Linked DNA regions of Homo sapiens: regions 2 and 3 are each reported to be linked to region 1. The links are microRNA targets in miRTarBase. Many come from high-throughput screens and were not tested one by one. Region 1 holds a microRNA gene; each other region holds the end of a gene's coding sequence. Distances are from middle to middle.

Region 1 (3,344 bases):
CCCGCAACCTCCCATGGCCACAGGGCCCCGCAGAGCCCAGCCCCCAGCTCCACCCTTGCCAAGGGCACCTCTGGCTTCCCCTGTGGACCCCAAGTCTGTCAGGGCCTCTGGGAGGGAACATACTTGTCATTGACGAAGGAGTACATGAGCAGCCGCTCCTCGATGAAGCGCTTCCACTCCTGCCGCTCGCCTTGGAGGTCACGGTATGTGTCGTTGGAAACCACGATCCCGTCAGACTCGTAGGCCAGCTTCACAATGAATCTGTCGTCATAGCACACCACCCGCTTGCCACCCACGCGTCGTGATGGTGTGAACACCAGGATCTTCTTCTTCTCCAGTTCCCGCAGGATGTGCTGGTCTGGGAGGTGACGGGTGCACACAGGTCAGGGCCCAGCGGGACCTAGAGCCAGGCCTACAGGGCTCCCTAACCTGCTGATGGCCACACACAGGAGTGGTTAACGCCAAGGTCACCGGGGCAAGAACTAACTCTGCTGAGGCCTCTTCCATGCCCCAGCCCCTCCCTTGGCGTGGCACAGTTTGCTGCCTGAAGACCAAGAACATCTGAACACAGGCGGCAGGGCCTGCATGGCAGAGGCTCCAAGCACAGAGCTGGCCTTGTTCCTTTTCTCCTTCTGGACATCAGGCCTGTTCAAGCCAGATGTGGTCTTGGCTTTGGCTTTCATCCAGCCTGTTCTGAGGGGTCCGTGAATGAGCCGCAGCTTGCTCTGGGGTGGGAGAAGTATCTTGGCTCTGTCCCTTGCATTGCCAGGACAAGGTCGCTAAATCCCATGGTGGGAAAAGGTCAGGCCACTCACCATGCCCCACCTGGGGAGCTGCTGGGACCACAGGGACACAGAAGTGTGCAAGTGGAAAGGGCCCCTCTTCCTGGAGCCTACAGTCCCAGACAGGCTGCCCCCAGATCTCAAGACTTCTAGAGAAACTGATTCAGTTTTTACCTCCAAAGGCTGGGGGCTCTTGCAAGAACAGTGGTAACAGCTAACATACACTGAGCATCTACCATGTGCCAGGTACTCTTCTCAGCACTTACCGTGTGTTAACTTATATGACCTCACGAGGAAGGCAATGCTGTCAACACCCCCTGCTGACACCGACCCCATGTTTCAGATGAGGAGCATGTGGCTCAGAGCAGGGCTAAGAGGGGTCCCTGTCCAGGCCAGGGCGCCAAGAGGGGACAGAGCCAGGATTCCAACTCTGGCTGTCTCGACTCAGAGCCCACAGGCTTAACCACTATGTGATACTGCGCTTCTGCCACTGGGGATGTTGAAAGAGCGACCTGCCCACCAGTAGGATGAGGGAGGGGCTCCAGATCTGAGGCAGAAGACTGGACAAGGTGACCTCCAATGACCACCATTCAGAGCAGGTTGCTAAGGACAGAAAAAACTGAGAAAAGAAATGCTGGTCCCTGCTTGAGTTCTAGAAGTTGTAGGTCACTCCCAGAGGGTCTCTCTTGGGGAGAACCAGGGCTGCTGGGGCAGTAAGACCATCCCACCTCCAGAGGCACCACTCACCTGTGATGGGCACGTCGGGCCGAGGCTGCTCCTTCCTCCAGGATGGCACAAACACTGTGATGTCTGTGTGGCCCCGCTCCAGAAACCAGTTCACTGCCAGCAGGATGCCCCGGCAGGAGAAGACCTCCTTGTTCCCATGGCTGGGAGGGAGAGGACAGGGTTAGCCCACACTGATGGCCAGCCTGCCACCCCCTAGGCCTGAGCAGGAGGAGGGAGGTGGTCACACCCCACCCCTGCCCTGGCTTTGGTGGTGGTAGTGAGCAGTCCCTTCCCCTTTGGAGTCACCAGCCCCTTCCCCTTTCCCCAGGGCTCAGGCCCTGGCCCTCTGCAGGTGGGGCCCAAGGCCAAGGCCTCCATTCCCAGTGCCAGTTCCCACAGCTCCAGGATGGCCAGGCCCCGCTGGGACTTTCCCTGAGGCTCCATCTCCTGAAAGTGAGGAAGCGCCCAGGAAGCTGGCAGCACTGCTCCCCACGGTGGGGGAGGGCCAGGCCACTTGCAACACACCTGGGGGTGGGGGAAAGGTGCCGCGAGACTTCTGGTTCCTGCCCCACCCGGCGAGCTGCCGGGACCACAGGGACAGATGTACACATGCACACTGAGTCACCACCCCTCCCTCGCCTCTTGCAGCGTGGGTGGGGGCGGGGGAAGCACCGGCTGGGCTGACCGAGGAGAAACCAGATTGTTCCGGATTAAAGTTCAGTCCTCACACACACCTCAGGGACTGGGGCCTGAGAAAGGCAAAGGGGAAGGGGCTGGCGACTCCAGCCTTCAGCATGGGACAGAAAGCGCCGGAGTGAAGCAAGTTCCCCAGGAGCCTTTCAGTCTGAAAGTGAAAGGATACTGCTTTTCCTCCCAAGATGGCAATTCCCCCAAATGCCTCTTCACCCCAAGGCAGAAAGACCATCAGGAAGATGCTAGGGGACTCTTAGCAAGGACAGCTGAGTAAGGCATGGGCCCTGCCTTGGTCTCAGACGAGGCCGCGCCCCACCCACAGGTGGCTGCACCCAGAAGGAAGCCTGGCAGGGCTCCTGGGCTGCCGCAGCTCTCCGTTCCTCTATCTGAAAATGGGCCCAGCAGTCTGCAGCTTCCTTAAGAGGGGTCAGTCAGTGGGACAGCTTTCCTGGTGGCTTCAGGCCAAAGATGGCCCTGCAAAGTAGGGGTTCCAACTGGATTTCCTGAGGGATGGGGGACTGGGGCTTGGGGCTCCCAGGTAACACTAGGTGTCATGGAAGAGCTCCTAGGACCAGCAGCCCCACGTCTCACTGCCCCCTCAGTGAACAGCTTAGACTCTCGTATTTGGCAAATAAAACAGAATAAATGTTACGCAAAAGAGGCAAGTCCAGGGCCAACCACATCCTGTGGGTGTCTTTAATGGGAGTGGGGGAGGTAAGGGGTGATAGCTGGAGCCCTAAGAGAAGCTAGGGAGGGAGGTGGGGCAGCTGGGGGCCATGGAGGCTATTTGGGGGCAAGACTGGGGCACCAGGGTCTGAAGGTCTCTAAATTGTAGGGGAGACAAAGTCCAGCCCAGGGCAGCACTCATCCTTCCCGGTCCCTCTGCCACATCTGCCAGCCTGCTTATAATAAAAGTTCCCATTTGCTGAGAGCTGTGAACCAGGCCCTGTTATAAGTGTCTAACACTGAATCATCAGCAAGCTTGTGAGGAGGGCACTATACCATCATCAACTCCTTCCCTGTTTTTCAGATGAAAACTGTGGTCCAGAGAAGGCAGCTTAGTCACCAGGGTCACACAGCAGTTAACGGTGGAAGAGAGACGCAAGCCCAGGGCCTATGCTTATCACTACCCTGTACGTCAAT
Region 2 (3,344 bases), not on the chromosome of region 1:
GGATCAGCGCAGCACCACCTTTGAGAAGTCTCTGTTGATGGGCAAGGAGTTCCAGCGCCGCGCCAAGGCCATGATGCTGCGGGCAGCTGTGCTCCGCAACCAGATCCATGTCAAGGTGGGCTGGCTTGAGGGGGGGCAGGCGCACGGCGTGTGGGGCCTGGTGGCTGTGAGCTGCTCCTTGTCTCCCCTGCAGTCCCCGCCCAGAGAAGGGAGCCAGGGGGAGCTGACTCCAGCCAACAGCCAGTCCCGGATGAGCACCAACATGTGAGGGGTGAACCTTGGCCTCCAGGACATCTGCACCCCCTCCCCACCTCCACGGACCTCGGACCTCCAGGCGGCTCAGTGCTGCCTGCGGCCCAGCTAAGGGGCCTGGCCACTGGGTGCCACCCAGCCTGTGTGCCCTCCCTGGGGCTGAGGAGGCAGGCGGCTGCTAGTTGTGGCCCTTCCTGGAAGGAGAGGCCTGCAGGGCTCGACCCTGTGGGTTTCTGTCCCCAGGGAGCAGACTGTGCGGCACCCAGGCCCAGTGGCACCATTTCCCAGACCCCTCCTGTTCCCGCCTCAGTCAGGTGCAGACAAGTGGGCGGTGTCCATTAAAGAGCAGACTCAGCGTTGCTCTTGGCTGTTCTTTCCTGCCGTGCAGGCTCTGGTCACCCCTGGGTGGCCTTGGGTTCCTGAGGGCTGTCTCCCTGGGACTAGGCTTGGAGGCAGGGCCTGGTGAGAGAAATGAGAAGCCTGGCCCTCAGATTCAACAGCCCCCAGCAGCAGCCACTGTGGCCTCGCAGGCGGTGCTTCCAAGGCTGTGAGGCATCACGAAGCTCCCGGAGGCTTTGGCCACTTGCCTATGGAGGCGCCTAGGGGAGGTGGGGAGGGGACCTAAGCCCCCACTTTTGTCTACCCAGATGCTGCCTTCATTTAGATGTATCCTGTTGTTCAGAAGCCCCCACTGGCCCCAACCGCACCTGCCCCGGCTCATGCCTCCCTGGGTCTGAGAGGGCAGTGGTCACAGGCTGTGGGCTCTCGCATCTTTGAAATGATTTATTGTTCACTTTTGCACACGCGTGCTGAGGACAGGGCAGGTCCAGCCTGGGGCCTGCTCCCCACTGCAGCATTTCCAGGCCCCCAGAGTGGGCCGAAGGGGGACATGGGCGTGTCTTTCCACATTAAGTAGCAGGAGATTCCCTGAGTAAAAGGCATTTTCTTAAGTAGGACGTGTCCAGGCTCCAGCAGCAGTCCTGGGGGTGGGGGTTGTGGGCCTTCAGGCCAGGGCACTGCCCATGACTTCGGAGAAGCCACCTGGTGTTCCAGGTGCTGCTGGCTGAGGCTCCTGCAGCTCAGGCTGGGCCTCTTTCCAGGCCAGAGACTTCTCCAATTTGGTTTTAAAAAGCAATCCGTGACCTGGCAGAGCGAGTGAGAGGAGTCGGGGGTCAGGAGGCGGAGGGGGTCTGTTTGCCTGCTGCGGGGCGGGTGGTAGGCGCCCTCACCTGGGCAGTCTGCAGTCTCTTTGGAGGCTCGCTTCTTGCAGCAGCCGCGGCACAGGCTGAACACACATCTGTTGCCCTGGGCACAGGAAATCTCGGGAGCCTGTGGCCAGCACCACTCCCGGGGCCAGGCTGGCCAGCAGGGGAGCAGCCCCACTGGGGAAGCCTCTGCCAGATGCCCACGGCCTGGATGCAGCCCTGGGAACTGCTCCCAAGCCAGATGCCTCTCCCTCACCCCCACCCACCCAGACTCTCTTCCCCTCCAGGCCTGGGCAGGGGCTTGGCTGGAAGCAAGGGGCCGTCCTGAGGCATCCATGCCACCTTGAGCCACGTTGCAAACCCAGCTGGGCGGGCACCAGACCTGCCACCCCAAGCAGTGCAGAGACCACCCTGCCCACCCCCAAAGCTGAAGCCTTGGTGGCTTGCAGCCGGAACCCACTCACCTTTGGGTTTCCACACTGGTCACACTTTGCATATTTTGCTAGGAAAAGAACAAAAGGGTGCTGGTGAGTGAGGGCCAGGGTGCCCTGGCTGTGGGGGCTGCCCCGTCCGCCTGCACGGAGCCTGCTGATGGCGTCCATGCCAGCTGTGGCCAGCCAGGCCAGGAGGCTCAGGGAGGGCAGAGGATGCAGGCTGGCCACGTCTGCTTTTCCTTCCGTGAGCAATGGGTGAGGGGATGCAGGGGGCACCATCCTGCAGGAAACGGATAGGAAGCAGGTGGGCTGGGGGGCCGCCGCAGGACGAGCAGCCTTATCTGTCCTACCCCCAGGCAGGGACAAGGGGAGCAGTTTTCCTGCCCACAGGGTCCAAGGGGGGTTCCATGCCCTTCAGTTCCAGGTCTCCCAAGCAAAAGGGCCAAGAAGGGTCAAATCAAGAATTCAGCCTGAAGCCCCACTTCCTGCCTCTCCCAGCTGCCTCATTCAGTGGCCTGGTGGGGGGCAGTGTGGCAGGCAGGGACTGCTGGCACCAGCCTGATGTGGCAGCTGCTCTTGGACTGGCCAGCGCCCTGGGGGTTACATGGGAAGGTTTCAGGGTTATCGCTGGTCTCCCCTGCAGCTTGTAAAGTTGTCAGAGATCTGGGAGGCTGCCACCTGTTGAGGGCCCAGATGGGCTGGCCCAGGATACGGCGGCGACCAGGGGTCTCAGGGGAGACAGCACTAGGCTGAGGCCTTGCCACTGGTGGCTAAGAGAGGGGCGAGCAGCCTCGTCCCGTGCCTTTGGCCCAGCAACAAGACCCATGCACACACTCCCGGGGACCCCAGCCTCCCTCTCAGCAGCTGCTCAGGTGTCCTGTGTGAGGCTGGGCAGGGGCAGCCGCAGGGACCCGAGGCCCTGAGCTGTAGACGAGCTTCACCTGGCTGAAAAGCTTGTCCCATAGCCTCATCTGATTCACTGAGCCCATGTCCCACATGCACGGGCTGTGGCCTGCACAGGGTCCCCGTTCTGACCCCAAGTCTGGCTGACTACTCCGCCAAGCCCTCCAGGTGTCTGCTTCCAGCTCTGGGCCTTGAGCCTTGCTGACCACAAGTCTGGGTTCCTGTTACTGGCAACAGGGAGGATGGGGGTGATGAAGAGGCTCTCTCGGGCCCATCAGCGGAAGCAGCACTTACGCTTCAGAGAGGGGTCGAAGGTCTTGTGGGGGTTCCTCAGCTGCTTCTTTTGCTTGTTCTTGGACAGGACCTCCGTGCCACCCTCCTCTTCCTCCAGGGCCCGCTTGCTGCGCGCACCTGCCTTCTCCTTGCTCCCCTCCCTGGGCCTGAGGGGAGGGCAGCGGGCAGAGCCCAAGGACACTGTGAGAGGGGCCCAGCAGCCACAGCCACACGGGTCTGAGTCTGGGTGAGGGGCCAGGCGGCCGTGGCGAGTGCC
Region 3 (3,000 bases), 14 Mb from region 1:
CTAATGAGTCACCCATACCAAATATTCCTATGTGGCTTCTGTCACCAGCATAACCTTCGTAGAAAACTACTCAGGTTTTTTCATCTTCCCAAGATATGGCAATAACCAAAGGGCTCAAGATACTGTACTCCCAAATTCCTACAGAACATCTGTGTAATATATCTGTACATCTGTACGGAATGCATCAGTGTAAAGACAATCATGCCCAATTTTAATGACTCTGATGAAAAGCCATTAAATGAATCAGTGCTGGGTTACTAAAATAATTCTCAGGTTTGCTGACTTTAAAAATTATATTTTTAATTATAGAATATTGTTAGAATAATACAAACACTAGGATAACTGTGACCAATACCATAAGGAAAACTGTTCTACATATTGATTTGTTCATTAATTCTCCACAACCATAGAAAACAGGCACAAAGTGTTCACGGGATGTGCAGAGGCAGCCAGGGACTTGGGAGCAGAAGGCATGCAAAAAGCATTAGTGAAGGGAGTCTGATGCATGAGTTCTATACAAAGTTCAACACAGCAAACGGGCAACAATTGGCAGAAAGAGGAGACAGCTGGTGTGGCCCTTGTCCCTTAAGTTTCCCAGCTAGATTGTTCATGTATGGAGATAGCTGGGTGCTTAGAAGCCTTGTTTTAAGCCCTTCACCTCCAAGAAGCCAAAAGCAGCAGCAGGAACTGGTTGGGGTGGGGCAAGAACAGTAGGGAAGGAAAAGGGGGTGAAATACAGTTAGGTCATGGAAATGCGGTCATCTATGGCCACTCCCAAGCTGATACCCATAGTGGCTCACAGAAGCAACAGGAGAACTTTGACATTTATTAAAACCATCAGCAACATATATGAGAAAAGACATATTTGAGTTTAGTTACCAAGAACATGTGTCACCCGACAATTAAAATATGGATACCCACAGTCTGCTAGATTTTGTAAATAACAAAAAAACATGCTCCTTGCCTGAGTTTGTCCTTAAAAAGGAGTGGCAACATGAAGGAACCCCCCTGGAAGATGGGTTACTTTAAAGGTTGTGTTATTAACAAGTGATGTGGTCCCACACAGCTGTGGGTCACAATAACTCATTATAGTACCCACCCAGAGAGACCACTGGCTCCTTTAACACCAAGTCCTAAAAAGCTATGGCAAAACATTTTTAAAATGTTACAACATTCACAATAAAGAACAGTAGCAATAAAGCACAGTAGAAATAAACTGGGGGTACTCTCAAAAGAAAAGATATTCCTCACTCCAGTCCCATTTTCTGGGCACCAATTCCCTTCCACCCCAACATGCTTGGATAGCATCAACACTTGAGATATTTCTTAATTCCTACCTGGACTGAGATTAGGAAAACTGACACTACTGGGCTTAAATTGGGCGAACTGTTATTTTAACCTCTTATATCTGTAGGGTGGGAGGATGGAAATACATTCCTACCGAGGTTCGTTAATTCCTTCTGACTAAGCCAAAGAGTTCTTCATTACCATAGAAGATAATTCATTCTGAGAATAGGACAATCGACCTATTTGTCTGGTCATTATCTTCCACAATTGACAAACACATACAAACAAGTGCTTAGCTCTGTACAAAGACAGACCTTACAGGAGAGTGCACACTAAAGCACTAGTGTTTAAATTATTTTCCATAATGAAAAAAGGACATTTCTCACATTGGAGTTATGTCTGTACTTCTGTCACATGACTCACATCACCCAAGAACATGCTAAGTCTCTGTAAATTCAGTTTCTATTAGAAAAACCACAGGAATACACATTACTGTACATACACATGCCCTGATGCAAGCTAAGATAAACACTGGGATGTGGCCCTTATCAAATCTTAGAGTTAGCAGGATAGGAAGAGTTGATCTTAAAGATTAGAAGGGAAAGAACACAGAAACGACCTACATTCCTTGGGAAGGGACTCTGTGGTTCCTTCCCTGAAGGACTCAATTCCACTTGCTCCTTACACTTAACTGTCACTGATGGTCCTATCTTTTCTTGAAGATATTTTCTATACAATATTCCCTATAGTGATCCCCAAAGAAAATTCATAAATCTGATTAATGGCAGTAATAACTGTGGGCATCTTCTGCTAAAGTCACCATCATTGATGGGTCCTTGGTCCCCAAACCTGTGTCTCATTTTTCCTTTCCAACCGTATCTTCAGTTAGCCTTCACAAAGATGCAAGCTTTAAAGGAGCTAATTAGAAACAATGAGAAGGAGAAAAGTTACAATCATTGCCTTCATCGTGCAAAATCTTGCCCTCAGGAAGATGGAAAAGATACAAATGCATGAGCAACTCAAGGAAAAAGCCCTTTGGAAGGGAAGATGTGTGTGCCCAACTACTATGGTGTGTGAATAGGTGTGGCAATTTAGGCAGAGTCTCTAGTTGCCTTTTTCCAAAGCAGCCATTACCACCCTATTACAGTCCCACGTTTCACTTAGCATAGTTCCTTGGGCCAAGGATGGGAGAAAATAACATTGAAAGATTTACTCCATTTCCAGGCCTAAGCATTCACCAGCATTTGTCCCCTGGTCTTCAGATTTCCAGTTACTTGTGGGGCTGCTTTTAATGAAGTAACCCATTGAGTGAATAAAAATCACCATTTTGGAGGAGATAACATTCCCAAAGCTGAGGGTCAGAATTTCAAATGGCTTGTCATCTCTGATGGTTTAAATCGTGGCCCACAACTAGGAGAGTATGATAAAAGCAGCTCAGTCTTGAGGGCGTTCATTGATATCAAATAAAATTGTATCTTCAAATGAATCATTTCTCAGCCATCATAATTACAGCTTAGTCCGTATGAACTCTCTTATGTTTAATAAGAGCTGAGCTCCTGCTGAAACTCTTCTCACATTCGGTACATTCATAAGGTTTCTCTCCCGTGTGAACTCTTTGATGTGTGATGAGGTTGGAGCTCTGGGTGAAACCTTTCCCACACTGCACACACTCGTAGGGCTTCTCCCCTGTGTGGGTTCTCTGATGTTTAATTA

The links. Region 1 holds the annotated microRNA hsa-miR-6732-5p (UAGGGGGUGGCAGGCUGGCC, at 1,705-1,724, opposite strand). A microRNA usually pairs through its seed, bases 2 to 8, with sites in the 3' UTR of a target mRNA and lowers its output. Matches are read on the target gene's strand: a 7mer-m8 pairs with bases 2 to 8, a 7mer-A1 pairs with bases 2 to 7 and ends in A, and an 8mer does both.
Region 2: miRTarBase lists GPS1 as a target of hsa-miR-6732-5p. Seed matches in the 3' UTR shown: 7mer-m8 at 299-305.
Region 3: miRTarBase lists ZNF436 as a target of hsa-miR-6732-5p. Seed matches in the 3' UTR shown: 7mer-m8 at 724-730.

The regions. Positions count from the first base shown.
Region 1 is chr1:37,478,615-37,481,958 of GRCh38, reverse strand. MIR6732 (microRNA 6732) reads right to left here and starts at 1,729; the gene lies at 1,670-1,729. It overlaps ZC3H12A (zinc finger CCCH-type containing 12A), which reads right to left. Exons shown (of 6, transcript NM_025079.3): 3 at 1,530-1,669; 4 at 124-358. RefSeq lists enhancers at 1,381-2,207, 1,977-2,271, 2,045-2,584, 2,208-3,034.
Region 2 is chr17:82,056,860-82,060,203 of GRCh38, forward strand. GPS1 (G protein pathway suppressor 1) reads left to right here. Exons shown (of 13, transcript NM_001321092.3): 12 at 1-115; 13 at 194-611. The coding sequence ends at 268. DUS1L (dihydrouridine synthase 1 like) reads right to left here. Exons shown (of 14, transcript NM_022156.5): 11 at 3,089-3,234; 12 at 1,922-1,959; 13 at 1,482-1,557; 14 at 647-1,395. The coding sequence ends at 1,256. Among named protein-coding and RNA genes, the nearest start is that of GPS1, 6.6 kb to the left of the region's middle.
Region 3 is chr1:23,359,169-23,362,168 of GRCh38, forward strand. ZNF436 (zinc finger protein 436) reads right to left here. Exons shown (of 4, transcript NM_001077195.2): 4 at 280-3,000. The coding sequence ends at 2,801. Among named protein-coding and RNA genes, the nearest start is that of ZNF436-AS1, 8.3 kb to the right of the region's middle.